Linked DNA regions of Homo sapiens. The protein of the gene in region 1 interacts with the protein of each later gene in a pairwise test. Each region holds a gene or a part of one and is shown in the gene's direction. Other genes may lie near its edges.

Region 1 (7,810 bases):
TGCCAAAACAAAGATTATAGTTTTTATATTAGTCAGGGTTCTCCAGACAGAACCATAGGATGTATACATATATGTGTGCAGATACATTCATGGGCCATTTGAGTCAGCCACAGACCACATATGGTGGTCCCATAAGATTATAATACCAATATGTTTACTGTACCCTTTCTGTATTCAATTATGTTTAGATACACAAATAGTTATCATTGTGTTACAGTTGCCTACAGTATGCAGTACAGAACATACTGTACAGGTTTGTAGCCTATTGTAGGAACAATAGGCTATAGTGTATACCATAGGTGTAGTAGGCTATACCATCTAGATTTGTGTGGTATATTCTATCATATTAAAACAATGAAACCGCCTGGCTGGGCACTGTGGCGCGTGCCTATAATCCCAGCACTTTGCAAAGCCAAGGCAGGCAGATCACTTGAGGCCAGAAGTTCAAGTGCAGCCTGGCCAAGATGGCAAAACCCCATCTCTACTAAAAAAATACAAAAATTAGCCAGGCCTAGTGTCACGTTCCTGTAATCCCAGGTACTTGGGAACCTGATGCAGGAGAATCGCTCTGAACCTGGAGGCGGAGGTTACAGTGAGCCGAGATCACGCCACTGCATTTCAGCCTGCGTGACAGAAGGATACTCTGTCTCAAAAAAAAAAACAAAAAAAAAAACTAAAAACACCTGACATATTTCTCAGAACATACATCTGTCCACAAGCTATACATGATTCTACATGGGACAGAATTCATCAGGAAAATTAATTTGCTTGATTATGGAGTCTAGAGAGTTCCAATATAGGCTGTCTCTAAGCTGGTGTCCTGAGAATACCGGTATCCTGGCTAAGCTCAAGTCTGAAAGCTTCAGAACAAGTTTCAGGAGAGAGACGGAGGAAGTTGCCTTTTTTCTGCCTTTTTCTTTATATCTGAGGTGTCAGCTGATTGGATGGTGCCCACACACATTGAGAGATGAGGCTCCCACTCAGCTCACCAGCTCACATGTCTCTCTCCTCTAGAAACACCTTCACAGACTCACCCACAAACAATGCTTCACTAGTTCCCTAGGTGTTGGTTAATCCAGTCAGACTGATACCTAAAATTCACCATCACACTATGGAAATATAATTACACCTCTCTGAGTTTAACAAAAACCTCCTATATGTTAGTTCAGAGCTTGCACAGCCCTAGGGGAAGTTAATTTAATCCGCAAGAAAATAAAAAGACCCAATATCTTTAATAATTTTTCTTTTCCCTACTAGTGAAACTTGATTGGTTTAATTGCAGTCTTTTTCTTTGTTTATTTGGTTGGTTGGCTTTTTTTAAATTTTGTTTTGATTTGGGTCTTTGTTTTTAATTTAATTTAATTTTAAGTCCTGGGATAACTGCAGGACTTGCAGGCTTGTTATGTAGATAAACTTGTGCCATGGTGGTTTGCTGCCCGGCTTTTGTGACCCTCTATAAAAATATGTCATAGAACCATCTTCTCATATTTCTTTGGCCATCTTCTCATATTTCTTTGGCCTGGATAGTTTTTTCCCTCCCACTCTTTCACAGTCATTCATCAGTTATTGAAAGAAGAATAGGGACAACTATGATTTATTCTGACCACTTAGAATCAAAACCCAATTTCCAGATCTATGTTCAGAAAATGGGTAGTTGAATAGGTTTGTATTATGCTACAGACAGGAACTAGGAGTAGAAGGGACTGTGAGTCCTCTGGTTAGTAATATCTGTTATAAAGCCAGGAGACTCCCTCTAAGTGTAAATTTTTAAGTTTGTAACAGAAGAAATAGTTTGTTGTACTTTAATGAACACTGTCAAGAGAAGAAAATATAACTATCACATATCTCCACATGTTTAGAAGCTTTTCATCAACCCAGGCCCCAAAATGACATGTTTCTCTTTGTTCCTCAGAAACATGAATTCTGGAATCTTACAGGTCTTTCAGGGGGAACTCATCTGCCCCCTGTGCATGAACTACTTCATAGACCCGGTCACCATAGACTGTGGGCACAGCTTTTGCAGGCCTTGTTTCTACCTCAACTGGCAAGACATCCCATTTCTTGTCCAGTGCTCTGAATGCACAAAGTCAACAGAGCAGATAAACCTCAAAACCAACATTCATTTGAAGAAGATGGCTTCTCTTGCCAGAAAAGTCAGTCTCTGGCTATTCCTGAGCTCTGAGGAGCAAATGTGTGGCACTCACAGGGAGACAAAGAAGATATTCTGTGAAGTGGACAGGAGCCTGCTCTGTTTGCTGTGCTCCAGCTCTCAGGAGCACCGGTATCACAGACACCGTCCCATTGAGTGGGCTGCTGAGGAACACCGGGTAAGTGATGGCTCTGAAGATCGATTTCTGTAAAGGAAGCATAAAATTCCTGTGGGTCTATTTTCTTGGAGATTAGGTAAAGCCAACTCTGAGTCCCTTTAAGCAGCTCTGTTTGGGCTTTCTTAGCTTCCAACCTCTGGGCTTTGACAAACATGAAGGGAAACAAAGGAAATGCCATTTACTAGGGGCTTATTTGTCTCTCATTCTGGGCCCCCTCCCTATGTCATGGTCTGCACTGGTGCTTCAATTTATGGCTCTTTTGCAGGAGAAGCTTTTACAGAAAATGCAGTCTTTGTGGGAAAAAGCTTGTGAAAATCACAGAAACCTGAATGTGGAAACCACCAGAACCAGATGCTGGAAGGTTAGTCCTGTACTACTCTACCTTCTCCAGGAACTTATGGTGGGCAAATGGGTGACTCTTAAAATAGGAACTTGATATCAAACTGTAATGTTTCTGGGATACAGTAAAAAAAAAAAGGCGAGAGAAAACATTGAGAAAAAGTGGCCTCATTTTTATACAGAATAGTATGCCTGTTAGGTAGGATTTCTAAGAAAACTACTGATGTCACCCAAAGCATGCTGGTTTGTTTCATACAAACCTATAGTTATACACCAACAGATCCAAGAAACTGGGCCATCTCAAAGCATTCTATATTTGCTGGTTGGATAAATGCTAGGCAAAAGGGTTATTTGGCAGTCATGGAATGCTCAACTGAAACTTCTGAGTGTCGGTCAGCATTAATCTGAATGCTAGTGTGCAAGTAGTATTTGGAATTGCATGGAAAATTTGAGGCAGAAAAAGTGACAGGGCAAATCTAGGGAAACCATGAAATTAAGAATCTCAACTAATTAATATTGAATAATACATAACATACGATGAGAAAAGCGGTGAGAAATACGGATTTGTGTCTTGAGGGAGACATGTAAACATGCCAGAAATATGGGAACTAGTATCTAAACATAAGGAGAACTCTGAGGACTTCAGAAAAACATTAAAATAATTTTCTCTTTGTGGATGTATATTTTGAGGGTATGATAGCTAAGATTAGTTTGTTGAAAAGTATTTCATGAGAACCTAGTCTATGTTGAATATTAAATTAGAAAATATACTAGTAAAGAAGAAAGGAAGCACCTTTGTCCTCACAAATCATACAATCCAAATAAGAGAGTCAAATGGTCAATACACAAATATATGCAATACATGATGTATTTGAGTGTGGTAGGTTTTTGTTGGAGAATAATCAAGCAGGGAAGTAGAAAAGGACAATAGAGGCCAGAAACTGGAGATTAGTGTTTGAGTTTTAAATAGGGTGGTCAGAAAAAAGACTCACTGAAAAATTCAAATTGAAACAAAGTTTTCAAGAGGAGGGGGAACACAAATGTGTGTGTGGATATATATGTGGACCATGAGTGTGTATATGTATGTATGTGTGTGTGGTTGTGTGTATATATGTATGTATGTATGTATGTATGTATGTGTGTGTGTTTGTATACATATATATGTAATTCTAGTTGGAGAGAATAGCATATGCAGTAATTTTGAGTTTGTGTATATTTGGAGGCCGGAGGAACCACAAAGAAGTCTATGTTTCAGACTGGGATGACTTAGAAAAAGAATAGAAGGAAATGAATTCAGGGAGACAAAGATGGCCAAATCATAAATGCAGCCTTATTAGGATAGGTTTTGCTGAGCGAAATGCACTTAGCTGGACATGCTAGTCTAAGGTCATTTTCATATAATGAGTTTAAGCAACTTGTTGCATATCTCAGAAATAGAAAGAATTGTTTCCTTTCTAGTAACTATAGCCCTATACTCCAACTCTCAAGCATGAACTGTTCTTACTTTGCCATAAATATGGGTTGGAATAGAGAAATTCAAATTGTGTTTTTTTGTTTTCAACTATCTTAGAAAACACATTATCTTGAATAAATTTAACGTAATTGGTCAGATACAGCTATGTTGATCTTTATGCAGAAAAAAGGAAAGGAACAAAATTTGTAGATTCTAAGAACTGGCAAGACAGAAGTTTGAACTATTGGACGTTCGAGAGACAAAAGGAATCAGTGAGATTTAATAGGAGATGGATATATACATTTCTCTTTTGACTAACCCATTATCACTGCAGGATTATGTGAATTTAAGGCTAGAAGCAATTAGAGCTGAGTATCAGAAGATGCCTGCATTTCATCATGAAGAAGAAAAACATAATTTGGAGATGCTGAAAAAGAAGGGGAAAGAAATTTTTCATCGACTTCATTTAAGTAAAGCCAAAATGGCTCATAGGATGGAGATTTTAAGAGGAATGTATGAGGAGCTGAACGAAATGTGCCATAAACCAGATGTGGAGCTACTTCAGGTAAAAACTCGCCATGTGGTTTCAGGTTTTTGAATATTCACATGTATAAGTATTTTCCTCATGGCTGAAATCCATCTCCCTACTTTTATTTCCATGATGTGTTTCCAAAAACACATTCACATAACTAATGCTACTTTGTTGGGAGAGTATAGCCCCACTAAGGGATTCTACCAGGGCAAAGGTCCCTCCTACTTTATCCACCAGCCACAAAACTTTGTGGAATGGTCAAGGTAACAGCCCCAAGAAATATTCCCCATCTAATTCAATAATATACTTTGGGTTGTTAAACATGTATAGAATAGTGAGTGATTCATTTACATTTAGGTTAATTTGTAAACATGGCAAGATCAGAAGTTTTGGGAATCTAGGTTTGCATTAACATTATTTTGGGGTCCACTCATTTGGGTAACAGGTTCAGTTAAAGATGACTGAGTAGGTTTTTCATGGTTACCACAGACCATAGACCTTCTGGGCCTCTTCTCCCTTCACTTCTTTAGAGAATGTCTTCAAGACTCAGACTTTCCCAGGACGTTAATTAATAACAATACAACTGACTGGGTTTTTCATTACAGAAGAAATAGAAAATACTTTCCAGAAGAGAAGATGGTAGGGAAATAATATCTTCAGAAACTGAGTACAAATCTCACACTGAACTTAGTGAAAGATGCATCTTGTGAAATGCACTAAATCTTTCTTCTTTTTTTTTTTTTCAGGCTTTTGGAGACATATTACACAGGTGAGTGTGTACCTAGATTTTAGCATATGTTCTTTAAGATTCCACGACTATCAAAGCAGGCTCTATTAAAGTCATGGCATAAATAATTAAGATATTGATACCACTTTTTTTTGCATCTACTTTCGTTCCCACACCTTAAAAGACAAGGCCACGAAGTAAATAAATGAATAAAAGAAGAGTGAACTAAAACAAACAATTTGATTCCTGGTTTTGTTTTTTTTTGAGACGCTGTCTGGCTCTGTCGCCCAGGCTGGAGTGCAATGGCGCCATCTCGGCTCACTGCAAGCTCCGCCTCCCGGGTTCACACCATTCCCCTGCCTCAGCCTCCCGAGTACCCGGGACTACAGGCGCCCGCCACCACACCCGGCTAATTTTTTGTATTTTTAGTAGAGACTGGGTTTCACCATGTTAGCCAGGATGGTCTCTATCTCCTGACCCCGTGATCCGCCCGCCTCGGCCTCCCAAAGTGCTGGGATTACAGGCGTGAACCACCGTGCCCGGCCCCTGATTTTGTTTTATTGCTTGAAAGCCTGCACAGGAGAAAGATAAGAGTTTTGTTTTGTGAATGGTGAGAAAGTCACCAGAGGAAGCAGGAGAGAAGAGGAGGAAGTATTTTAGCAGCGAAAAAGTGTTGATGTTTTGTTTTTTATACATATATACATATCAGTTAACAGTTCTGAAAAATAGATTGAAAAAAACTGTGGAGTGTTAGAACTGTATAAGTCTCTAGGGAAGTTCTTTGCTAAAAGGGGAGAGAACAAGTTTCCATTCTTTATCTTGAGAAGGAAGCAGTGGATGCATCAGTCTCCCCAAAACCCCGCTATTTCAGACAAAGATGTCAGGGGAGTCTGCCAAGAAGTGGAACTCAGAATTTCGTTTCTAAATATTCTCAAGGCCATAAAGCTAAGGAACCTTACACATTTGGAGCAAAAAAAAAAGAAGGATCAGATTGGATTCTGGCTTAGATTCTTCCATCATGCTTTAAAATTTAGAAACTGTAAAGAATTAATTTGCAAAAGGAAGGATTAATTTTTGAATTATCAAATGTGTAGATTCAAAGGATTCTCATGAAATGTCTTTTATATACAAATAGTGATTTTTATTTATTTTATGGCTGTAGATGTTGTAACTGCAGGTTTTTCCTTGCAGGAGTGAGTCCGTGCTGCTGCACATGCCCCAGCCTCTGAATCCAGAGCTCAGTGCAGGGCCCATCACTGGACTGAGGGACAGGCTCAACCAATTCCGAGGTAAGTCTCCACCCACAGGCAGCACTCCCACTATCTAAATATTATTATTGTTAGGATCACATAGGTAATATTTCATATTTTATCAAATATTTTACTTCTTTTAAGACATAAGTGAACAATATAACCATGCAACCCTTTGGTATCCGTGTCTGTATTTACAGTCAGATTTATAGCATTAAGTTTGAAAGATAGTGAAAAAGAAATACTTTCTGGCATAATATGTACTGAGTTATATAACGGGAAAAAGGAGTAGTGTAGAAAATTTTAAAAAGGAGCAAATGAAATAATGCTCAGAATGGTGAATTATTTAATGTTAAATACAAAATTGTGCATTTCTTTAGTGTATTCATTTGAACTGCTAAGAACTGTTCTTTAGGGGAATATAGTTTTCTGGAGATTCTTGGGGGTTTTGTATTTTTTTAATGTGTATATATTATTCATATATTGCAAACATTTGAATTAATAGGTAAAGCTAAAAGGAAGAAATCATTTTGTGGATATAAGTAAAATTACAAATGAAAATAAGTTCAGTTTAATTGCAATATGAAGAGCTACATGTTAAGTCTAAAATCCAGCTTCAGCCCAGAGCTAGCATGGAGGACCTCAGAGAGACTGGTCAAAGATTTTGCAGAGATCTGCTTTAAATTATCACTTATAACATGTACATATGGATTTTTATCCAGATATCTAGAGCAGTTCTTAAGTGAAAATCTTCACATTCACATTCTTTCCAAAATGATAGCACTAGTTTTTAAGAATAAGAAACATTTCTAAATAATGATCTTGATAACAGCATTGCATTTAGGGCATATAATGTGTAAATTTTACTTTGAAAATTGGATTGAAAGAAGTTGGTCTCACATTTGGCTCTCAATATGTAAGTTTTCAAAAAAAAAACATAATATCTGTGGTTAGGGTTTTGTTTGTCTTGTATATAATATTAACCATCTCTATACTTTACTAGAAGTTACAAGCAAAACTTTTTATGACTTTACATTTGCTGGTAAAGTAACTTCTTGATAGAACAATTATTTTTTTCTTATTTACACATGTCTATGCATGTTTTCTTTTTTTTTTTTTTTTTGCAGTGCATATTACTCTGCATCATGAAGAAGCCAACAGTGATATCTTTCTGTATGAAAT
Region 2 (7,810 bases), on another chromosome or scaffold:
TCTGAATCTTGTACCTTTTTGAGTTAAACTTGAGCTCCTGATAATAAAGTGATGACTCTAATAGTGTTAATCTTGTGTCACAGATGAAGACTAAGGGAACAGAACCACTTTTATATTTAGATTTCTTTTACCTGAAGGAATCTAAATGAAATGTAGACTTGTTCGTGTTCTACAGGGCTTTCACTTTGTGAATAGAGCAGTAAGTTTGTGTGCTTTTCAGTTATTCTGTTATGTGAGTTAGTTCTTCTACTTGTCAGAAAATATGTATTGTGGAAGAAGAAGAATTTTATGAATCTAGAATCAAGTTTATAGCAGTATACTCTGAATAAATAACTGCACAGTTCCTGTCAAATGTGAGGGGAACCCATTTGACATCTTTACAGAACTAGTCAAAAGATTAGAAAGGGAGTACACATTATTTTTTCCCACTTTAAAATTGAAGAATGATATGATGTATGGTTATAATGCATTTCACTAATTATTGCTTTAATTGTGTAAAGGCATTTCTTTTGAAGAAGCTCCTGTTTTCTTCGGAGAAGTCTTCTTGGCGGGATTGTTCAGGTATGATAGCTGTCTTTTAAAACTTTTGCTTCCTCCTCTGTTTTAATAGAGATGATCTAAAATTATCTGAGAAAGTCAAGTATCAGTGGGAATTTTTTTTCCTGAGGTTTCCTTTTAAAATGTTTTAGAAAGTTTCATGAACAGTGACTCCATATTTCCAAATTTGGCTTTCTAACCAGGGGTTATAAGACATGATGGTATAACTAAGGGAAAAACGTTTGGCCTCTTGGTAAAACACGGTGCATTTCCTAGAACTGTTAGGTGGCAGCATGCCATAAAGAACAGTCTTTTTTTTTTTTTTTTTTTTGTAGTCTTATTTAGCTGTGGGCAAGACCTCAGAATTATCATTATATTCCTGCATGTTTTAGTATAATGCCTTACACAATGCAAATACTGCAAATAATTTTGGATGAAATTGCAAATGAAGCTGTCATAGCTTCTGTAACATGAGCTTCTGTACCCAGAGAGATGTGTGGTGCCACCTTATAATAACAAGAATTTGCATTCCACGTGACAGTTTACAAAGATCTTTCCTTCACTTACACAATTTCCTGTGAACCTCACAGTAAATTCTGGAAGAAGTTAGGACACATTACAATCCCAGTTTTGTATCTAAGGATGTAACAGCTTACATTCCAAACCATGACTATAGAATCTACTAATGATTTTGAATTTAAGAGTTAAGGGATCACTTCCATAAGTTTTAAATTAATAGGTGAAATACAAAACAAATTTTAGTAGAGAAGAAACTATTTGAGATACTATTTTTGAAATGAACTTTTAATAAAATTTATACTATTTCTTATACTATATTCACTATATTCACTTTGATAAAACATTTGTAAAGCATTGTCATAAGTGTCATAAATACTGTGGTGATTAGAAAGTGAACAGCATAGTTCCTGCAGTTAAAGAACTGTTAATCCATTAGGAGAGACAGAAACCTCCTTGTATCATAAAATTTTTGAAAGTTTCAGAAAGTAATACTACTTCTTGAGAGTAATACTGCTTGAAAAGAGTGTGGCTAAGGTTCATAAAGAGATGGTCTGAGCATTTGCGCCATTTTCTATAAAATTCTAATGCTCAAATCTGTATTCTAACCACTGGCTTCTGCTGATGTAATGGACTTTGGTAACATATGTGCTGACGGTCTCTCATCTCATTATTCTTATCCCTTTGGGACGGGGTGATCATAGACGTTAGATTAATTCAGATGTGAGGGAAAAAAAATAGAGGTTTCAACAGGCCTTTACATTGTGCTCAGTTCTTCAGTAGAGGAAACCTCTTGGCTTAAATGCTGCAGTTGCTAAAGTTTTAAGAAAGTGATGATCAGTGTCACATTATGATCTTTCATAATGTTTAGTTCTGCATTTTTCAGTATTCTTTTTCTACTTGGTGGTGTTATTTGGATGGCTTTATTTAAAGTGGTGATATTTTAATCCACAAACACATTGTTTTTCTAAGACATAATTTAAAATCTATTTAGAGATTTTTCCCCCATTTTTAAAATGCTTGATTTTCATCATTAACCCATTCTTACTATTGTTATTCATGACAGAATTTTTTTTTTTCCAGAGGAAACCATTATAACTTATGCTTTGGTTATTTTTAGAGGAAGAGCAGAAGGAACTCCTTTGTCATACCTTGTGTGATATTTTAGAAAGTGCTTGTTGTGACCACTCTGGATCATACTGCTTGGTTTCATGGTTAAGAGGAAAGACAACTGAGGAAACTGCTAGTATTTCTGGGAGTCCTGCAGAGTCTAGTTGCCAAGTGGAACATTCTTGTAAGATATATTTTTATTTCCTGAAGTTTTTTTCTTGTTCCTTTGTTTTAATGAATCTATTGAATATTTTGAAGAAAAAATTACTTAAAATTTTCATAACATGTATTCTTTTCCAGCTTAAGCTTAATTACTGAGCCTCACTATTTTTTATTTCCATATCATTTATTTTAACTACTTAGAAGATACTACATTTTTGCAAAAAAAAATGCATCTCTTAAACTTTTAAAAATGTTCTGGTTAACTTCTGCTTGATAATAATCTCTTTTGAGCTTTAGAACTCTTATTTAGAAATAATGATATGCTTCAGTTTCAGATGCCTTAATGTTTTGCTTTGGTATTGCAAAAACGGATTTTTTTGGACATCAGAAGATTTCATAAAGTTATCTTTACTTGCTTCCCAGAGCAAAGATGGGGACATTTCTCCTCATTGCAAGCTGTTTCTTTTCTTTCCGAATTATTTGGATATTTTTATACATATAGATTATTTTAAGGCAATTTTAATTATGCCTTAAGTTTTTCATACCTTGAAGATAAGTTAAATAATAGCTGTTTACGTTAAATAATAGCTATTCTCATTATTCATAAAAATTATATATTCTGTGGTTTTTAACTTTTGAAAATTGTTATGTAATTGACCCGAAAGCTGCCAGTGTGAAATGGAGACAGCTAGTGGTACGGAAGCTAGTTAAGAGTTGCTTTTCTGATTTGCTTTTCAGGAATAATCTTGCTAGTTGATGGTTTTTTATAATTGGTAGTCCCAAGTGCTTATGTTAAATAAGTGACTTATTCTACCCACAGAGCATCACATTAACTATCATCTTTGTGGAAAGTTTTCGTAAAGAGATTACGTACCTGAAAGTACACTTCAATTGTATGGGATACACATTTTGCTTTCCATATAGTATTATCTATAAGGTGCTGTTGCCTCCCTGGACTAAAATGCCTCTGTGTTGTCAGTGTCTTTTTTCTCCTACCTCTGCAGTTAAAATGCCTTAAGCCTGGCAAATTCTAATAGTAGTAACATTTGCAAGGAATAATTTTGAACATTTGAACAGCTATATGATGCTTCCTTTTGAAGCCTTTGAAATATGGCCTTTCAAAAAGAACTTAACATATTTTAGAGTTTATAATGACATTTGAAGACAACAAGTGGAAAACAGTCACAAGGATGCTAGTCCAAAGTGTCACTAAGATTGGTTTTAACATATTCTCCAGGTTTTACTGTGTGGGTGTTAGCACACTTAATAGGTTCATTTAGGATATTAAAATTTTGAAAGAGGAATTGTTGATCTTTTGAAAAGGTATTTTAAAGATTTTGTGCTTAAAGCCAGTCTGTATATTGATGTGAGAAAATAGTAAGATCTTTTTATATAACATTTTCCATTAGTATCTTAACAGTATACTGAGTGCATACTATGAAATATGCTATGCAGTTCTGTGGTGATACGTCACGTTGCTATAGGTTAAAGGGCCTTATAATGCATTCCCTTTGGTACTTCAGTAACTAATTTAGATGGGCATATTATATTGAATTACCCTCCAGAAAACATTTTAGTAATTTTTCCAGTTTACTTTGTATCTCATTTTAAAAGTTGCCATGAAGTAAACCATATTTTAAATTTTTTAAATAATGTATACATTTGAAATACTTTGTTAACTGAAAATTTGAGAATTTACCTTAGTGACAAATGAACTGTATTTATATTACAATTTTTATTCCGTGTAACAATCTATTTTACCTGTTCTTTCCTTTATTCCCAGCTTTGTTCTTTTTCTTGTGTTTTATATTTTTTCACCATCCCTGCCTGCTAAGCTTTTTATTTTGCTTGCCTCTTTTCTCTAAATTATTATCTTTATGTCTACTCTTGTAGTATACCCAGTAAAACTATTTAGATAATCTAATGTTGCAGAACAAGCAGTATAATTTGGAAAAGATTAGGTAGAATTTTCATTTTCTGAAAGTTTTAATGTAAAGTGTTTTCCCCTCTTGTTAATATTACTTTCTCTACAAACATTAATTTCATTGGCTTATGTGGTGTGTATAGTTTTGGCTTGTTGGTAATGCACAGTTGTTCGCAGTAGTGAATACTCAGGTTCAATTTCAGTTTGTTTCCCACATAAACCAAGAAATAACTTAATACATTTGGACTGCTAAAGATTTTAAAACGAAATATGAAACACTCACAACTAGGCTTTGGAAAGCTAGCATAATGTGACATTTTAAATTGTAAATAAAAATCTAAAATTTTGACTTCATAATGAATCAATTTTCTTAACTCACCAGTGAGAATTTATATTTGATAGTAGTAAGATTTGCTTTATGAAATATATGTGAAGTTATTCATTGTGATAAATAACTCCCTGGAGCCAAGACTATCTGTGCTCAAGTCTCATCTCTGCTGTTTAATCCTATGTACTCTTGAGAGGATTTTTCTGTGTGCCTCAGGTTCCTCTTCTGTAAAATGGAGCTAAGAGGGTTTATATGAGGATTAAATGAGGTAAGACATGTAGGGCATTTAGAAAAGGGCCTGGCACTTAGTAAAGTGCTCAATAAACATTACCTCTGATTAAAATGCTTTCTTCTATTTCCTTTGATTAATAAACATAATCTAAATAAGTTACTGAAAACTTTTTAACAGTTATACAAATAAATGAGGAAACAAACTTAAAGCTGTCATTGAACCTGTGTAGTTTGAAAGTGTTATGCCTTTTTATACATGTTTGTTTAATAATTAAGCCTTAAACCTAAAGATTTTATATTATAAAAAGGAAGGTTAGCTCTGATGATATTACTTGGATTTATATAATCTGAAAGATTATTTAAAAGTGCAGGACACATTATGATATGTGAGGCACTGATTATCAGTAATTTTTCATACTTTATAACTGCCGTAGCATAGCTGAACTGAAATGTTATTTAATCACCCTTCTATATTCTCAGTATTATATCGATTTTAGTTATATTCATAATAAAGATGTTGAAATATAAATTCATGTTATAATGAAGTTGAAAATAAACTGAGAATTTTAAGGGAGTAAGGAAATAGGGAAAGTTTTGATTGCTTGAAAGTATTTACAGCCTGCTGTGTGTATCTTGTGTCATTTATTTGCCATGTGTAGTGCTGAAAAGTGTCTTTTATGTATAGCTGCCTTGGCTGTCGAAGAGCTTGGCTTTGAGCGATTTCATGCATTAATTCAGTAAGTAACATTGGAACATTTAAAATACTTACTCTGTGGACACATTGCCACTTTAAGTCTGTTCATACTGTGGAAAGGTTCTTAGTTTTACATAGAAATGCGCTACTTAAACATAAATTTTAAATCCATTGCTTCAGGATTAATTTGCCTTTAAATTAAAATAGTTTGTAAATGTATAAACTATGCTGAGTCCTTAATTAACTACCCAGATACGCTTTTCAAAAACATTAAAAAGCTTTTTCATCATTACAATGAAAAAAAATCATTTTAGCTTAATGTTTCTGTGACCTAAACAAATATGAAGATTTCTAGTAGGATAAATATTAGAATTATTTATTTGCCAGTATCTGTTTTCTATACCTTTTATTAAGAATACCGATATTTTTGTTAGAGCATTTAAACTTTTTATTACAAAGTAAAAGGTAAAGATGGCTGTTGATAGAATTATGGGTGGCATTTGGTTTAAAATGTAACATTAATTTCTTTTAAAAGAAGCCGCAAATGTGTAAGTTATCTTTGGCATTAAGATATTTGTTAAGTAATTTCTAGGATTTAAAAAGTGAAGTTTTCTTTGTGTTTACCCCCTCTTACAAGAAGGCCACTCTATTCTTTAAATAACTGTATATTATTGAAGAATTTACTGATGCCAGACAGTTCACCTAAGAGATGAAGAGGTTCCCTGCCAAGTAGGTGTTCTTTCTTAATGATAAATATCATATATAGTGATAGTTGTCAGAAATAGCTTTTGGTTTTAGTGGCTAAATTTGTAATGAAAAATTTAGAAACGTCCCAAAACTTTCCTGTTTGTATGTATATGTTTTAATGTATAAGAAAATTTAAAAATTTTCCCTTTTATGAATGTAGTTAATCTCATCATGATACCAATACTTAATTCTTTTTTTCCCCCAGAAAAAGATCGTTCAGAAGTTTACCAGAATTAAAAGATGCTGTCTTGGACCAGTATTCAATGTGGGGAAATAAATTTGGAGTATTGCTTTTTCTGTATTCTGTATTACTGACAAAGGTGTGTTCAAGAAGATGATTTTTCTGCCTTTGATTAATGTTGTTCAGTGCTGTTTTTCCTGCAGTGATGAGTAATTTTATTCCTGATGGTGTTTTTAAATTCTTAGAATAAAAATCTTTTACGTTGAAAATGAGTTAATTTCTGTTTCCTCAGCACTCACTCGTTGCTTAAGCAGTTTCACCTCTGCTCTTTTGGACTACAGAGATTATCAATAATGTTCTGGTTGTGAAATGCTGTCCTTTCTTCCAAATTGTGTTTCCTTTGATCCTTCCGTGTAGCACTTGACCCCTTAACCCCTTCTGGAAGCTGTTTTTGACCTTGATTCCATTTCTTGATTTTTTTTTTGAAAAATCACTGTGTGAGTTTTCTTTCTATAATGTCTCACGATTCTTATTTTGTTTTGTTTTCTTTGATAGCTTTGTTTCCTTCTTTATCTGTTACCTCCTGCTCTTTTCTCTCCTCCTCTAAATTTTTATAGTCCAGAAATTTTCTTCCCTGGATCCAGTATGCCTTTTATGGATATTTCATTTGCTCAGGTTACCTTTATATAGCTATTTAATAGTTCCAATATGTCCCCTTCTAGTCCTACTCTTTTTCCCCAAATACCAGTCTCATAGCTCTAGTAACGTGTTAGTCTCAGTTGACTATGCTATTAGATCTATCATGTCTGAAATCAAACTTCTTTTATTTGACAAATGTTTTTTGAGCGTTGATTGACTCTATGCTAGGGACTATGTCTGTATTAATAATATGGGATGCATTTTTAATGGTATCTATTTAGCATTGTAAAAAAATGGCACATTAATAATTCCATTATGGCAGTGTGTTTTGGCGTTTGGTCTTCTGTCTGAACCTATTAGATGGAATCAAGGGCATACTGTTTCTAGTAGGGACCATCTGACAGAGATAGGACCTTGATGCATGAGGGCAAGTTTTCTATATGGGAAAGCTGGAGGACATTTTTTCCAGCAGTGGGCACTGCAAGTATAAAAGTGTAAGGGATTGAGGGTATAATGCAGGTTTGGGGAGCTCTAAGTAGTTGAGCCTTACTGTAGCATAAGACACCAGAGAGGCAACTGTGGAAGATGAGACTGGGCACATATGTAAGAAAAGACTTAGAATATGAAGACCTTTCTATGTACACTGTACAAAGAGTAGGTTTCATCTGCTCAGAATTGGAACACAGTAAAAAGTTTGAACAAGGGAGTGACAAGATCTTTTTGTTGATAAAAGATATCTTA

What was found.
Region 2: the proteins of TRIM49C (region 1) and MINDY3 interact in binary tests that used the Homo sapiens proteins (3 or more experiments, as listed by UniProt).

What each region holds. Positions count from the first base shown.
Region 1 is NC_000011.10:90,033,296-90,041,105, forward strand, and holds part of TRIM49C (tripartite motif-containing protein 49C), read left to right. Parts: intron 1-1,912; 5' UTR 1,913-1,916; coding exon 1,917-2,327; intron 2,328-2,592; coding exon 2,593-2,688; intron 2,689-4,453; coding exon 4,454-4,684; intron 4,685-5,397; coding exon 5,398-5,420; intron 5,421-6,569; coding exon 6,570-6,667; intron 6,668-7,755; coding exon 7,756-7,810.
Region 2 is NC_000010.11:15,835,963-15,843,772, reverse strand, and holds part of MINDY3 (ubiquitin carboxyl-terminal hydrolase MINDY-3), read left to right. Parts: intron 1-500; coding exon 501-561; intron 562-2,173; coding exon 2,174-2,347; intron 2,348-5,493; coding exon 5,494-5,545; intron 5,546-6,139; exon of another isoform or gene 6,140-6,211; coding exon of another isoform or gene 6,212-6,231; intron 6,232-6,454; coding exon 6,455-6,569; intron 6,570-7,810. UniProt on the Homo sapiens protein: Hydrolase that can remove 'Lys-48'-linked conjugated ubiquitin from proteins.